Linked DNA regions of Homo sapiens. The protein of the gene in region 1 interacts with the protein of each later gene in a pairwise test. Each region holds a gene or a part of one and is shown on either strand. Other genes may lie near its edges.

Region 1 (8,150 bases):
ATTGCTCTTCCCATCCTTGTCCATCAGACAAGCTTTCCCCATTATAGTGGCCACAGGCCACTTTCTAGAGTGCTGCTGCCACAAAACTTTTCAAGCAAGCAAGGAAGTGTGCTAAAGTTTTAGGTGTGTTTCACTGCTCGCTGCTTAGGGAAATGCAGTACATTTACATTTTGTTCCTAACACAAACAAAAAGCTTGGGAAAGGACCCTCTCTGATACCATCCATAGAGCCAACCAATTCTTGCTTGGGTGAACTCTCAAGTCCTATAGTGGCAATATACAACTAAAATGTTTACATGCTATGAAAGGCAGCCACTGTTAAAACCTATGGCCAAAAATTACCATAAGTAAATCTTACTGTAAATACCTCAGAACTCACATGCAATTATTGACATAGAGGACATCTTTGGCCTTGATTTCATTTCATTCACATATGTGAATCCATTCTACATCTCCAAACATGCATTTCATGGCTTTTTCATAGATACATTTCTAGATGTAGAACTATTGAGTCAAATGACATGCACTTCTCATAGGCTTCGGAAGTCACATATGGCCAAATTGCTCTTCAGTAAGATGGGGACATTCCCACCAGCAATGATAGGAATGCCATTCCTCCAAGCTGTGCCAAACACCTGGGTGTTTGCAAACGGATAACAAATAATGGCATCTCATTTTAAATTCGGTTCTTCAATTATTTGGATGGGGCCACGTACAGTGTCTCATGCCTGTAATCCCAGCACTTTTGAGGTGGGTGGATCACTTGAGCTCAGGAGTTTGAGAGCAGCCTGGGCAACATGGTGAGACCCCATCTCTACAAAAAATACAACAACAACAAAAAAATAGCTGGACATGCTGGTGTGTGCCCATGGTCCCAGCTACTTGGGAGGCTGGGGTGGGAGCATCACTTGAGTCCTAGGGGCAGAGGTTGCAGTGAACCGAGATCACTCCAGCCTGGGTGACAGAACAAGACCCTGTCTCAAAAAAAAAAACAAACCCACAAAATAACCACCCACTCCCCCAAACCCAATTATTAGGATGGATGAAATTTCCCCCAAATACATATTGGCTATATGTATGTGTTATTTTATTTTATCTTATTCTGAGATGGGGTCTCACTCTGTCACCCAGGTTGGAGTGCAGTGGTATGATCAGGGCTCACTGCAGACTCGACCTCTCCAGCTCAAGCAGTCCTCATGTCAGCCTCTCAAGTAGCTGGGACCACAGGTGTGCAACACCACGCCCAGCTAACTTTTTAGTTTTTTGTAGAGACCAGGTCTCCATATGTTGCCTAGGCTGGTCTTGAACTCCTAGCTTCAAGCAGTCTACCTGCCGCAGCCTCCCGAAGTGCTGAGATTGCAGGCATAAGCCACCTTGTCCAGCCTGTTTTTAAAAATAAGTTACCTGATCACATCTTTTGCCCTTTTTTTTTCTTTTTGGATATTTATTTTCATCTTATAAATTTATAAAAGCTCAAGGAGTGTAAATTAGTTCAACCATTGTGGAAGACAGTGTGGCAATTCCTCAAGGATCTAGAACTAGAAATACCATTTGACCCAGCAATCCCATTACTGGGTATGTACCCAAAGGATTATAAATCATTCTACTGTAAAGACACATGTACACGTATGTTTATTGCGGCACTGTTCACATAGCAAAGACTTGGAACCAACCCAAATGTCCATCAATGATAGACTGGATAGAGAAAACGTGGCACATATACACCATGGAATACTATGCAGCCATAAAAAAGGATGAGTTCATGTCCTTTGCAGGGACATAGATGAAGCTGGAAACCCTCATTCTCACCAAACTAACGCAAAAATGGAAAACCAAACACTGCATGTTCTTACTTATAAGTGGGAGTTGAACAATGAGAACACATGGACACAGGGAGGGGAATATCACACACTGGGGCCTGTCGTGGGGTTGGGGGAGGGGAGAAGGATAGCATTAGGAGAAATACCTAATGTAGACGACGGGTTGATGGGTGCAGCAAACTACCGTGGCATGTGTATAACTATGTAACAAACCTGTACGTTTTACACATGTACCTCAGAACTTAAAGTATAAAAAAAAAGCTCATAATTTGTCATGACTACTCACTCTTTTTTCTTTCTATCATGTTGTTATAGATTTTCCCCCAGTTTATAGTTTGCTATGAAAGTTTTAAGTTTATATTTAAAGAGGCATATTCAAATCTATGCCTCTTTTCCTTTATTTTGCCTGTATTTGGTATCTTCTTGGCAATAACTTCTTCACTCTAAGATTATATAAACTTTCACTTACTTTTTTCGGGTACATCTTTAATTTCAATTTTTACATTCAAATCTGTGAGTCATCTGGATTTTCCAGTTTGGGATAAGAAAGGATTAATTTTATTTTTATTCCAAATGGTTAATTAGTTGTTCCAGCAATATTTTTTGAATAACCCATCCTTTCTTCACCAAGATAAAATGCCACTTGTTTTCATATACAATTTTATTCTATTTATGTTTACTATTTTGTTCTATTGATTTGTCTGTTAGGGTTTTTGTCAGTACTGTCTTGATTATTTGAACATTAGACTACATTTTATAAATTATACTCCATGGCTATGTAACCCTGAACAAGTTATTTGACATTTCTGGAGCTTAATTTCTTTATCTGTAAATTTATCTCTATTTTATTTATAATTATGGCCTTGTTTCATTTCTATTATTATTATTATTTTTGTTTTTTTTTTGGGATGGAGTCTCACTCTGTTGCTCAGGCTGTAGTGCAGTGTGGCATGATCTCAGGTCACTGTAACCCCCGCCTCCTGGGATCAAGCGATTCTCCTGCCTCAGCCTCCTGAGTAACGGGGATTACAGGCGTGCACCACCATGCCCGGCTGATTTTTGTATTTTTGGTAGAGACGGAGTTTCACCATGTTGGGCCAGGCAGTCTTGAACTCCTGACCTCAGGTGATCCACCTGCCTTGGCCTCCCAAAGTGCTGGGATTACAGTCCAGGCTCTAATATTATTTATTTGTGTTTAAAATTTTTTCTTGAACCTTGTTTATCTGCATTATCAGCTTTTGCATGAAGCCATAGTTCTGATAATCTTTATTTCATTCATTTCTGCTTTTATGATTTTATTCCTTAAAATCTTTTCGGGGGGAGAGGGGTTACTCTTTTTTTTTTCTTATTTCTTAAATTGACAACTTGGCTCATTCATTTTGGAATTTTTGATTTTGAACACTATAATCCATCAATTCTTGGATAGACAGTTTGCATCTTTGAAGTAGGGACTGGATGTTACCAGGTCTGTGGGCCCAGCAGCAGGTAGGATGTAGTTGTAATAATTTTTGCTGTATGAGCACTGAAGCATGTAGAACGTGTGTTCATAGCTTGGAAAAAACTCCAGAGACAGTAGAGAAGCACTTTTGCGCGGTGGCTCACGCCTGTAATACCAGCACTTTGGGAGGCCAAGGCAGGCAGATCATGAGGTCAGGAGTTCGAGACCAGCCTGGCTAAGAGACCAGCCTGGCCAATATGTTGAAACCTCATCTCTACTAAAAATACAAAAATTGGTCCTGGCGCCACTGCGCCTGTAATCCCAGCACTTTGGGAGGCTGAGATGGGTGGGTGACCTGAGGTGTGGCGTTTGAGACCAGCTTGGCCAACATGGTGAAACCCCGTCTCTACTAAAAATACAAAAATTAGCCAGGCATGATGGTGGGCACCTGTAATCCCAGCTACTCGGGAGGCTGAGACAGGAGAATCGCTTGAACCCAAGAGGCGGAGGTTGCAGTGAGCTGAGATTGCACTACTGCACTCCAGCCGGGGGGACAGAGCGAGACTCTGTCTCCAAGAAATGAATAAATAAATAAGCTGGGTGTGGTGGCATGCACCTGTAATCCCAGCTACTCGGGAGGCTGAGGCAGGAGAATTGCTTGAACCCTGGAGTTGGAGGTTGCAGTGAGCCGAGATTATGCCATTGCACTCCAGCCTGGGCGACTCTGGCTCAAAAAAAAAAAAAAAAAAAAAAAAGAAAGAAATGCTGCATCACTCAACTCACATTTTTATTGAAATATTAGGTCAGTATTAGGTGGAAAGTGTGGACAATAGTGATTGAGTTGAAAGTGGTTTAGTAGTCAGATTTCTGAATGTGCATAAGATTTAGGAATGCCTTAACCAGTCTATTGTGCTTATATTTTCCTTCTTTATATATGTGCATGAGTGATATGTGATTAAAATCTATAAATAAATTAAAAGAATGCATCAATAAGTATAAAATAAAAATTCTAAGTGATAAAAGCATGTATCATACTTTAATTGGCAGCCTTTGTTCTTTGTGATACATAAAATAACGATGCTATTACAATTGATGGTGCCTTATATTCAGTGAAATACAGCATATGCATTCAAGGCCCCAGATTTCTAATTACTGCTTTAGTTGAATCCCACAAGTTTTGATATATAGTACTCAATGTTCATTGATCATTAAGCAACTCATGATTTCCATTACAATTTCTTCTTGTATGTGAATTATTTAGAAGTGTGGTTTGAGTTTCCAAGCTTATGGATACTTTTTGGCTGTCTTTTTATTATTGATTTCTAATTGTATTGCATTGTGGTCAGAGAGTGTGGTCTATGTATTGTTGATACTTGTTTTGTGGCTTGGTATATGGGTGGTTCTTCCTTTGGTTACTGGGGACCCGTCTCCTCATCCTCACCTGCTGCTTGCCTGCCACCTCCCCTGGGCTTGACTCCATCCCAGTTACACCTCAAGCAACCAGTTGGACCTCACTGTGCTGGGGGCTGCTCTAGGCTCTAGGGCATATTCCAGAGCAGCACTTCCCACACTTGGCTGACCCTAAGAATCACCTGAGGTGCTTCTTAAATATCCTGGCTCCCAGACTGTAGGTCTGAGTCAGAGCCCTGGGGCCTGCATATTGAACAAGTACCCCAAGGGGATTCTCGTGACTGGGCAAATTCAGGAAGTTCTGTGCAGTTGGGAATCTGGAAGTGGAACTGGATAAAATACAGTGCAGTGATGGAACTAGACTTCAAGAAGGAGATTACTGCCAAACGTGAGCCTAAATGAAGAGCAGGGGTGAGGGTGGGGGCTTATTTAAAATGCAGGTTCCCAGGCCTCACTTGGAGAGATTCTAATTCAATAGGTCTGCGATGGAATTTGAGAATCTGTATTTTTAACAGGCTTCCTGGGTAATTCTGATGCAGATAGGCCTTGCGCCATGTCCTGAGAAGCCCCAGAGTGGGAGGATTTTGAAGGGAGGGAGTAGCTCAGCTGAACTTTAAGCTTTGTAGAGTAACAGGCAAAGTCCTCTTAGGAGTGAAAGGTTTGGTGATAGATCGGGACTTGATAAGAATGGAAAAGGTATTATTCACTTGTGATATGAATTTGAGAGGAAATGAATAAAAAATTCTCTGAGTAGCAGTCCTGCTGATAGATGGTGGGAATTTGCATAGTTTACACTATACAGTCATATCAACGGGTTCTGCATTGGCAGATTCGACCAACTGCCCATAGTAAATATTCAAAAAGGAAACAACAAGTCTGGGTGTCGTGGCTTACACCTGTAATCCCAACACTTTAGGAGGCTGAGGCAGGTGGATTGCTTGAGGCCAGGAGTTTGAGACCAGCCTGGCCAACATGGTGAAACCTTGTCTCTACTAAAAATACAAAAATTAGCCAGGCATGGTGGCGAGTGCCTGTAATACCAGCTACTCATGAGGCTGAGGCAGGAGAATCACCTGAACCCAGAGGCGGAGGTGGCAGTGAGCTGAGATCACACCACTGAACTCCAGCCTGGGTGACAGAGTGAGACTCTGTGTCAAAAAAAAAAAAAAAAAAAAAAGAAAAAAGAAAAGAAAACAACAATATAACAACAAAAATAATACAAATAAGTATATAACAACTATTTACATAGCATTTGCATTGTATTAGGTATTACAAGTAATCTAGAGATGATTTACAGTACAGCATACAGGAGGATGTGCATATGTTATATTCGAATACTACACTGTTTCATATAAACGATTTGAGCATCTTTGGATTTTTGTAATTTTTGTATTGCGGGGGTCCTGGAACCAATCCCCCGTCGATACCAAAAGATGACTCTATATGTGTGAAGCATGATACTGTGTAGGTGGAATAGTAGTCAGTCTAAAAATGTACTCAAGAATCAGAGTTTGACTCTTATTTCTTACAATTTTCTCATAACCAGAGGTTACATTGCCATCTATTGAGCTTTAGTGCTCTACGAAATTATGCATAAAGAAATATGCATAATCTTTTCATCGGACTTTTTATTTTTGTGGCTGGATGAGGTACATAACTGTATGAGATGATAACAGAACAAATTGGCTTTCATGAAGTATTAATAGTATAGCAGAGTGAAGATAATGGATATTCTTCTATGTCTGACACTCACTGGTTTTCAGGACTCCCTTACTTGTAACTGTGGGTGGTTGGGGAGTTATAATTCTTTTTCATTTATTCACTCAAACATTTATTGAGCACCTGCTTTGTGCCAGGCACTGTTATGGATTCTACTAAGATGAATAAGAACTGTGAGGGGAACCCACAGAAGTTTCTGAGGGCATTCTTTGGGTTGTGATCAGCATTATATTCATCAGTCTTTTTATAAACAAATCCTTTGGAAAATTATATTGAGATGCTTAATACAATGTACAGTGCTATATAGCTCACTTCAGATCCTAGGTCTTCCACTTAGTTCAGAGTAGGTGAACTATATGTAGGGGCAAGCAGTCTAGTACAGGGCTTAGAATCTCAGGCTTTAGTGTCACAAGAGCTGTAATCAAATATGGGCCTAGATGTTTTCTTTTTTCTTTTTTGTTTTTCTGAGACAGAGTCTCTGTTGCCCAGGCTGGAGTGCAGTCATGTGATCTCGGCTCACTGCAACCTCTGCCTCCTGGGTTCAAGCAAGCCTCCCACCTCAGCCTCCCAAATAGCTGGGATTACAAGAGTGTGCCACCATGACCAGCTAGTTTTTGTTTTTTGTAGAGACGGGGTTTCACCATGTTGGCCAGGTTGGTCTCGAACTCCTGACCTCAAGTCAGGGTGGATCTTATCTGATCCACCCACCTTGGCCTCCCAAAGTGCTGAGATTACAGGCATGAGCCACCACGCCGGGCCTAGATGTTTACTTTTTATGCAATCATAGGCAAGTTTCTTAGCCTTCTCAGCCTCAGTTTTCTCAACCATAAAATGGGGATAATAAGGAATACCTAAGCCTGTGGGTTGTTATAGGGATAAATGGAATAATATGTGTAAAGGTGTTGACATAATCCTCAGTGCACAGTAAATGTTCAATAAATGTTAGCTGTTTTAAAAATTTATTTATAATCTAGGAAACAAAATAGGGTGGAATGTATTTTCAATAATGTAATTAAATGGTGATATCTCTGTGTTACAGGTGCTAATTGCAGTGATTTTCTGGAATCTAAGGGATGTTTTGCCAACACAACACCCTCTGGCAAAAGTGTCAGTTCCTCATCTTCTGTGGAAACAGGCCCAAGTGTCAGTGAGCCTCCTGGCCTCCCCAGAGTGTCTGCTTACGTAGAGTAAGTAAGGGTCTGGTGCAGAGCTGTCACGGTTGGGGAGATTCTGACCAAGAAGCCAATAGTCTGAGAGGTAGCATGGTATGCTTGGCAAGAGCATGGATTCTGGAGCTAGACTGTGTGGGTTCAAATCCCGGTTCTGCCACTTAGTATCTGTGTGAATCTGAGCAAATTACTTCACCTCCCTGGGCTTCAGTGTTCTTATCTGTAAAATGCTGATGATAGCTTATAGGATTGTTGTGAGGATTAATTGAGTTAATAGCTGGAAAGAGCTTAGAAGACTTCCTGGCACACAGCAAGTTCTGTGTAAGTGCTTGCTATTACGAAGTTCAAAAATAAGTGAAACTATATATTTTTGGGATATGTACATACATACATGGGTGGTAAAACTTAAAGAAAAGCAAATAAATGATTATCGTAAGAGTCACAATTAGGGTAGTGGTTACTTTTCCCGGAAAGGGACCCACACAGATGGTTTCTGGGGAGTGGGGAAGGGAAGGACTGGCAATGTTTTGTTTCTTTTGTTTGGATAGAGACAGGGGTCTCTCTCTGTCACCCAGGCTGGAGTAGAGTGGTGTTA
Region 2 (8,150 bases), on another chromosome or scaffold:
TCACTTGAGGCCAGGAGTTTGAGACCAGCCTGGCCAACATGGTGAAACCCCGTCTCTGCTAAAAATACAAAAATTAACCACGTATGGTGATAGGTGCCTGTAATCCCAGCTACTTGGGAGGCTGAGGCAGGAGAATCGCTTGAACCCAACAGGCAACGGCGGCAGTGAACTGGGATTGCACCACTGCACTCCAGCCTGGGTGACAGGGCAAGACTCCATCTCAAAAAAAAAGAAATACTATTTAGAAATGAAAAATGAGTTAGTTCATTGTATCCTAATGAAAAGTTGATCAAGATATATTTCATTGACTTTAAGATACTATTGATTTTATGTATCAATGAGAAAGAAAAACCATCCAGTTAAACTATGCCATACCATTAATTAAAAGATATATCTGTAGATCAAAGGGCATTTTTTAAAAAGTATGTCTTAGAATTTGATGAAAATATTAAAACGTATGTATCCACTTTTTTAAAAGTATATTTTTAGTATAGGCTGAAAACAAAGCTGAGAGAATATCTGTCTTATTTACCATAATATTTCTATGTTCAATGTTTTGCACATAGTAGATACTTAACAGATAGATATTCATGAATTTTTAAATTAAGCATTTCTAGAATGGCCCCTTTTTTTAAACAGCTAGCACATGTTTGTATTCAGAAAAAGTTGAAAATAAATAAATGTAAATCGATACTTGTATTTATCATCAAAGAGTAACTCATTTTCTCAGGGCAGATTTGAAAATTTACCTTGTTATAATTGTAATGTCATTTTTTAGTCATCCCATTGTGTCATTTTACAGTTATCCTTAAATACCACCTCAAAACCTGAAGTAGCATGTTTTACTTCATAGCTACTTTGCAATGTCCATAAATCTGCATAGATAGTACATACCATTTCTTTATGGTATGGTATGTGGTATATGATATGGACTGCCTGGATTTGTATCTCAGCCCAACTACTTTTAGATATATAATTTTGGAAAAATTACCAATTTTGGTTCCCCCCCCCCCTTTTTTTTTTTTGAGACAGAGTCTCGCTCTGTCGCCCAGGCAGGAGTGCAGTGGTGTGATCTCAGCTCACTGCAAGCTCCGCCTCCCAGGTTCACGCCCTTCTTCTGCCTCAGCCTCCCGAGTAGCTGGGACTACAGGCGCCCACCACCACGCCTGGCTAATTTTTTATATATTTAGTAGAGACGGGGTTTCACCGTGTTAGCCAGGATGGTCTCGATCTCCTGACCTCATGATCCACCTGCCTTGGCCTCCCAAAGTGCTAGGATTACAGGCATGAGCCACCGCATCCAGCTGATTTTCCCTTATTTATAAAATACGAACAGTAATAGCATCTACCACATAAGAATTAAGCAAAATTGGCTGGGCATGGTGGCTCATGCCTGTAATCCCAGCACTTTGGGAGGGCGAGGCAGGCAGAGCATTTGAGGTCAGGAATTTGAGACCAGCCTGGCCAACATGGTGAAACCCTGGTCAGGAGTTTGAGACCAGCCTGGCCAACATGGGGAAACCCTGTCTCTACTAAAAAGACAAAAAATTTGGTCAGGCATGGTGGTGCACACCTGTAATCCCAAGTACTTGGGAAGGTGAGGCAGGAGAATATCTTGAACCTGGGAAGCGGAGGTTGCAGTGAGCTGAGATTGTGCCACTGCATTCCAGCCTGGGTGACAGAGTCAGACCCTGTCTCAAAAAAAAAAAAAAAAAAAGAATTAAACAAAATTATACTTGATATATATGACTATATGTAGTTTTTATTTTGATGGTACTGATCCTAAACTAACTCCTTATTGTTGCCCAATTCCTAAACATTTTGAAGTTTAGAAATGAGGGGGAAAGAAATACACACACACTTTATATATATATATATATATATATATGTATATATATGTATATATATAGTATATGTATGTTTTTTATATATATATACTTTATATATTTATATGCTTGGAATTGATGAGAGAATGTTTTTTGTCTGTTGTTTGTTTTTAGTATCCACAGTAAACAAGCAAAATGTCTGTGCAACATCTTTTTTGTTGTTATTTTCAAGTATTCTATGACCTTATCCCTGTTTTCTGTTTCAGGTCAAAACTTCACAGCTCATGATAAGCAACCTTCAGTGCTAAGTAAGTAGTTGGTTGTCTGCTCTTTTTTCAGCCAATCAATTCTTTTCTCTTTTTTTTTTTTTTTTTTTTTGAGACGATGTCTTGCTCTGTCGCCCAGGCTGGAGTGCAATCTGGGCTCATTGCAAGCTCCACCTCCTGGGTTCACGCGATTCTCCTGCCTCCGCCTCCCAAGTAGCTGGGACTACAGGCGCCCGCCACCACGCCCGGCTAATTTTTTGTATTTTTAGTAGAGACGGTGTTTCACTGTGTTAGCCAGGATGGTCTTGATCTCCTGACCTCATGATCCACCTGCCTCGGCCTCCCAAAGTGCTGGAATTACAGGTGTGAGCCACCGCACCCAGCCTCAGTCAATCAATTCTAACCTTGCCTTATTCTCCCAACAAAAGTTGTAATAAGATTTTAAGTCATTTTACCCCTCTTTACCTTTTTAATTCACCACGGATTGGTACTACCTATAATAATTACTCTGTGATATGGAAATGTGTTCAGGGCTATTTTACCACAAGTAATTTGTATTATGTGATAATATATTTATTTGCTACCTGCTTTGCTGTAGGAAGTGGTTCATCCTCACTGATACGATCCTTTGAAATTATCTTTTACTTATAAAACTATTGCTTTTATTGTTTTCTTCCCCTACTTTATTTTGTCTTTCTGATAGATTAATTTTATAACACTGGAATATGGTATAAACTTTCAAAGTATGGGAAATTATCTTTTGATATATGTATTTGCTTCAGGCTCAGGATATCAAAAAACTCCCCAGGAATGGGCCCCACAAACTGCAAGAATAAGGACCAGGATGCAAAGTAAGTAGATAAATCTCTGTTATTGAAATAATCTTGTGTATTTGCTATGTTTTTCTTGACAAAAATATTTAGTTCTTCAGATAAACATTTAGGTTGTTTGTGATTTCACTAATAAAGTACAGCTATGATTACTAGTTTAGTAATTTCTTGGACTGGCAGCACATGGGCTGGGTGTAGAATGTAAATAGTGGCGTGAGAAAACCAGAGATTGGCCAGGTGCGGTGGCTCACGCCTGTAATCCCAGCACTTTGGGAGGCCGAGGTGGGTGGATCACGAGGTCAGGAGATCGAGACCATCCTGGCTAACACGGTGAAACCTCGTCTCTACTAAAAATATTTAAAAAAGAAAAATTAGCTGGGCGTGGCGGCGGGAGGCTACTCGGGAGGCTGAAGCAGGAGAATGGTGTGAACCCAGGAGGCGGAGCTTGCAGTGAGCCAAGATTGCACCACTGCACTCCAGCCTGGGCGACAGAGCGAGACTCCATCTGAAAAAAAGAAAAAAAAAGAGAAAACCAGAGATTGATGGATTTTAACAAGCTGTCAGTTATAGCAGCAATACAGTCTGTATACAATAATGAAATTCTACTCTTTTGACAATACTTATTTTTTGCTTTTAGCAGATTTTGGAACAGCTTTGTATACTCATAATTTTACATAATAAAGGCTGAAATGCACAAGTTATATTTTCATGTTTAGGGTTTTTTTTCTGTTTTTTGTTTTGTTTTGTTTTGTTTTGTTTTGTTTTGTTTTGTTTTTGAGATGGAGTCTTGCTGTGTTGCCCAGGCTGGAGTACAGTGGTGCAACCTCAGTTCACTGCAACCTCTGCCTCCCGGGTTCAAGCAATTCTCCTGCCTCAGCCTCCCAAGTAGCCAGGACTACAGGCGCGTACCACCACACCCAGCTAATTTTTGTATTGTTACACGCCTGGCTAATTTTTATATTTTTAGTAGAGACAGGGTTTCACCATATTGGTCAGGCTGGTCTTGAACTCCTGACCTCATGATCTGCCTGCCTTGGCCTCCCTGAATGCTGGGATTACAGGCTTGAGCCACTGCGCCCAGCCTTTCTGGGTTTTTGGGGGTGTTTTGTTTTGTTTTGGGTTTTTTTTGAGATGAAGTCTCCCTCTGTCGCCCAGGTTGGAGTGCAGTGGCACAATCTCAGCTCACTGCAGCCTCCGCCTCCCACATTCAGGTCATTCTTGTGCCTTAGCCTCCTAAGTAGCTGGGACTTGCATGCATGCGCCACCATGCCCAGCTAATATTTGTACTTTTAGTAGAGACGGGGTTTCGCCATGTTGGCCAGGTTGGTCTTGAACTGCTGACCTCAAGTGATCCGCCTGCTTCAGCCTCCCAAAGTGTTGGGATTACAGGCATGAGCCACCACACCCAGCCTCATGTTTAGGTTTTGGATGGATTAAATGTCACAGAATTTAAGGAATACTATAAATTGATGTGATAAAACCATCGTACTTTGAACTCACTTTCTATAATTTCTATGGAAATGCGTCCACGTTAAATCTCGACCATATTTTTTTAAAGTCCATGCATATTCTCTGCCTTAAGTGACCTTTAACCTCCCTACTTTACTCATCTAACCACAATAGGTCTTGAGGTCATCAGGTATTCTCTTACTTTTATTTAGGTAATGTAAAAATCCACATCTTATATCTCTTGCTCATGGGATGATTAACTGTAATTGGACCAAATGACATGCGTGGCTCTGCTTTTCCATCAGTAAAGTAGGAGTGGTCATAATTCATTTTTTCTCAGCAGTGACGTTTTTAGCCCACATGTAAGTGAGTTCTTAAGCAGTCTAGAACCGAAATAACTTTTTGCCCTTGTCTTACTGTTGGTTGTCATTTCTTATTGCTGTGATTATGTGCCTGCTATTAGAAAACCATTTCCTCTTATAATTTGCTCTTCCTGACCTATTATAGTTAGGAAACCAAACATTAATTATTCAGCTTATTAGAATTATGTTTATAACCAGGATCAAACATTAAAATTAAATTTGAAGACCCAAGAGATACTCTTGGATGTAAAAATGCATGAGTTTTAGTGTATATAATGTGAAAAGCTCAGAGGCATCTTGTGTCATTTCTTAGTTCTTAACTGTACATTCTGAGTAATTAATATCAGATAAATGACTTCCAGATAAGTGAAGTTAGTACATACTTATCAGAAAATCTTTGCATAATTTTTTCCTCTAATAAGACACTGCAATAGAGAAGGAAACATAATTATATTGAACATCTAATAGAAATGCAGAAATAGATCTTTTTAGTTGCTAAATTGATAGCTAATTTTTAGTATTTTATCTGTTTGCATTTCTACTTTGTCTTAAGTTACTATGTTTATTATGGCTTACAGAATTATACATTGGTTGCTAACCACCTACCATATATAGATAACCACATTGAGCTTTCAGAGTTATGTAACAGTAACACACCAGAAGTGTGCATGTAATAGGATCTTTTAGACTTTCAACCACATGAGGACTTTAAGATAGAACGATGAGCAAGAAGAAAATATTTTCAATGGAAGTGGAAGACTACAGTGATTTTTCAAACACTGTTATATAATAGATTCCTCTTCAAGAATATTAAAAAAATGTTTTCCTAGCATTCCACATTTTATCTCTCATTCTTTAACTATATATTTCTGCCCGCTTTGGTGAGGAAAAAAAAGTCATTTTTAGAGCTGAGTGTTCAAGAACCTTAGGCTATAGATTCTACCCCATGGAACATTGTCACCCGACGTTAGCAACAGTTTCCTGTAGACAGGTCCCAGTTCAGGCTTCTGCCTGCATCCAAACCTTTTAGGAAAGATGGAACCACTGTCTTTACTTTTTCCTGTTTGCCAGGTGATAAAACAATGATTATAGAGAAGAATATATGTGCATGGAGAGGTCAGAGAACTAATATAAATGTTTTGGAACCTGTCTCAGAAATTTAGATAGAGAAAAGAAGACAATTTGGAGTTAAAGCTCTTGAGCTCCAGTCCTAGCTCTTCCACTTACTAATTGAGTAATCTTGGTAAAATCACTTAACCTTTGTGAACCTCAATTTTCTTGCCTTTAGAGACAGTAGTGCCTATAACTAGATTATTGTAATGAGCTTATATGTGTAAACACAATTTTTTAAAGTCTAAAATCTCATAATTATCAGGGCTTATTTATTGTTAATGTTTTCTGTAGAATCAATAGCAACTATGGAGGATTTGTGCCCTCTACTCTTGATGGTTGTAGAGTGATTGATTATCACCATACTCTTTAGACTAGAAAAGCTTGAGTTTTTTCTTTTTCTTTTTTTCTTTTTTTTTTTCTTTTTTCTTTTTTTTCTTTTTTTTTTCTTTTTTCTTTTTTCTTTTTTTTGAAACGGTCTTGCTCTGTTGCCTAGGCTGGAGTGCAGTGGCGTGATCTCAGCTCACTGCAACCTCTGCCTCCTGGGTTCAAGCGATTCTCATTCATGCCTCAGCTTCCCAAGTAGCTGGTGGTGCACCAATACACCCAGCTAATTTTTGTATTTTAGTAGAGACAGGGTTTCACCATGTTGGCCAGGCTGGTCTCAAACTCCTGACCTCAGGTGATCCACCCACCTCGACCTCCCAAAGTGTTGGGATTACAGGCTTGAGCCACTGCGCCCAGCTGAGTTTTTTCTTTTAAAAAGATGTTTTTTAGAATTGTTGTTAGCATCTCTAGTAATGTTGATAAAAAGGATAGCAGTTATACTTTGGACAATGTCCTGCCTTGGCAGTATATACCCTGCTGTGTATGTGTTTGTGTTATATGAATTATATAAATATTATATATGGTACATAATTATTATTTAGCTGTCCTTCATCATTAACATCATAGAATTGCACTTCACAGCATTTTTGTATATATTATCTCATTTGATCTTTGCAACCATGGAGTGAAGTATTCAAAATAAACATTATCTGATGGATTTGGGTTTCATGTGGTTAGGTATTTTTATTGTTATTTTAGTTGTAACTTCGATAACCTAACTTAGAAGCTTCTAAATAATGAAATATCCTAAGCTAAACTAGTAATTGAAAAACAGTATTCCTCTTACAGTTGCTGTCATTTTGTCTTACTACATCATTATGGAGTTTTTTGTCATATGATCAAAAATAAGGCTATTTCTGAATCTTAGCAGGGCTAATATTATTCCTCCAGTTATTCCAGTGTTTCTCAAATGAAAGTTGTTGATATAACGCTAAGAAGATCCACCAGGAAGTTCATTTATATATACAAAAGTTATAAAACTCCAGGCAAGTGATAGACGGCAATACTGGTAATATAGGTCATACAAATGAGATAACTCAGCCTCTCCACCTTCTGAAGCCTGTCCTTCCATTTCCTCTCTTAGATTTTAAAACCTGCTGGTATGCTAAGAAAGATGGAAGGGAAAGGGAAGGGTTAGGATCATTTTTAATTTCTTTTCTTGTTTTTAATTTTTTTTTTTTTTTTTAGAGATGGGGTCTCACAATGTTGCCCAGGCTGGCCTTAAACTCCTGTGCTCAAGCTGTCCTGTCACCTCAGCCTCTTGATTTGTCGGAATTACAGGCATGAACCACTGTGCCCGGCTTAATTTATTTTCTAAATAGATTTAGATGAAAGTAGAAATTTGACAGAGTTGAGAGAAAATTATTTTTGAGCTCTATTGTTTAACCACAAGCCTAAAACAGAATTACTTTATTACTTGTCTATTAACAGAAATGATGAGAAGTTTTTAAATGTGATTTTAAAATACTACTAGTATTTGAAATGGTCAGAATCCCCAGAGGAAATACTGAATCAGTTTGAGGTAGAAAATAGTGAGGATTAAGATTTTTATATTAAAACACCTTATCCAGACAGCTCAGTAGTCTGTAATCCACATTTTGTCCTTATTTTCCCCCTCTTTACAGCATCTTCACCAGGCAAGAGTTCAATATATGGCAGTTTTTCAGATGGTATAATATGTTTCATTTTATTATGGTGTGCTTAGTTTCTTTGTCCTTTTTATCCCGGAAGTTTCACCAATCCCATTAGATACTTAATGGGTCAAATACTTCCAAACTTTCTCTCAAAACTAATTATTGTGTGCTTTGTACTAGACCCCACCATATGCTGTGAAAAGCTATGAAAGAAATAGGTCATGTGTTTCAAGGAGCTCTCAGTCTAATCGGCACTCAGATATTCTACTTTTTCTTCTGCTTCTGG

What was found. Proteins that work in one complex are often made in the same cells at the same time.
Region 2: the proteins of SPATS1 (region 1) and TOR1AIP1 interact in binary tests that used the Homo sapiens proteins (3 or more experiments, as listed by UniProt).

The regions. Positions count from the first base shown.
Region 1 is NC_000006.12:44,345,301-44,353,450, forward strand, and holds part of SPATS1 (spermatogenesis-associated serine-rich protein 1), read left to right. Parts: intron 1-7,425; coding exon 7,426-7,573; intron 7,574-8,150.
Region 2 is NC_000001.11:179,905,731-179,913,880, forward strand, and holds part of TOR1AIP1 (torsin-1A-interacting protein 1), read left to right. Parts: intron 1-2,092; coding exon 2,093-2,134; intron 2,135-2,874; coding exon 2,875-2,943; intron 2,944-8,150. UniProt on the Homo sapiens protein: Required for nuclear membrane integrity. Induces TOR1A and TOR1B ATPase activity and is required for their location on the nuclear membrane. Binds to A- and B-type lamins. Possible role in membrane attachment and assembly of the nuclear lamina.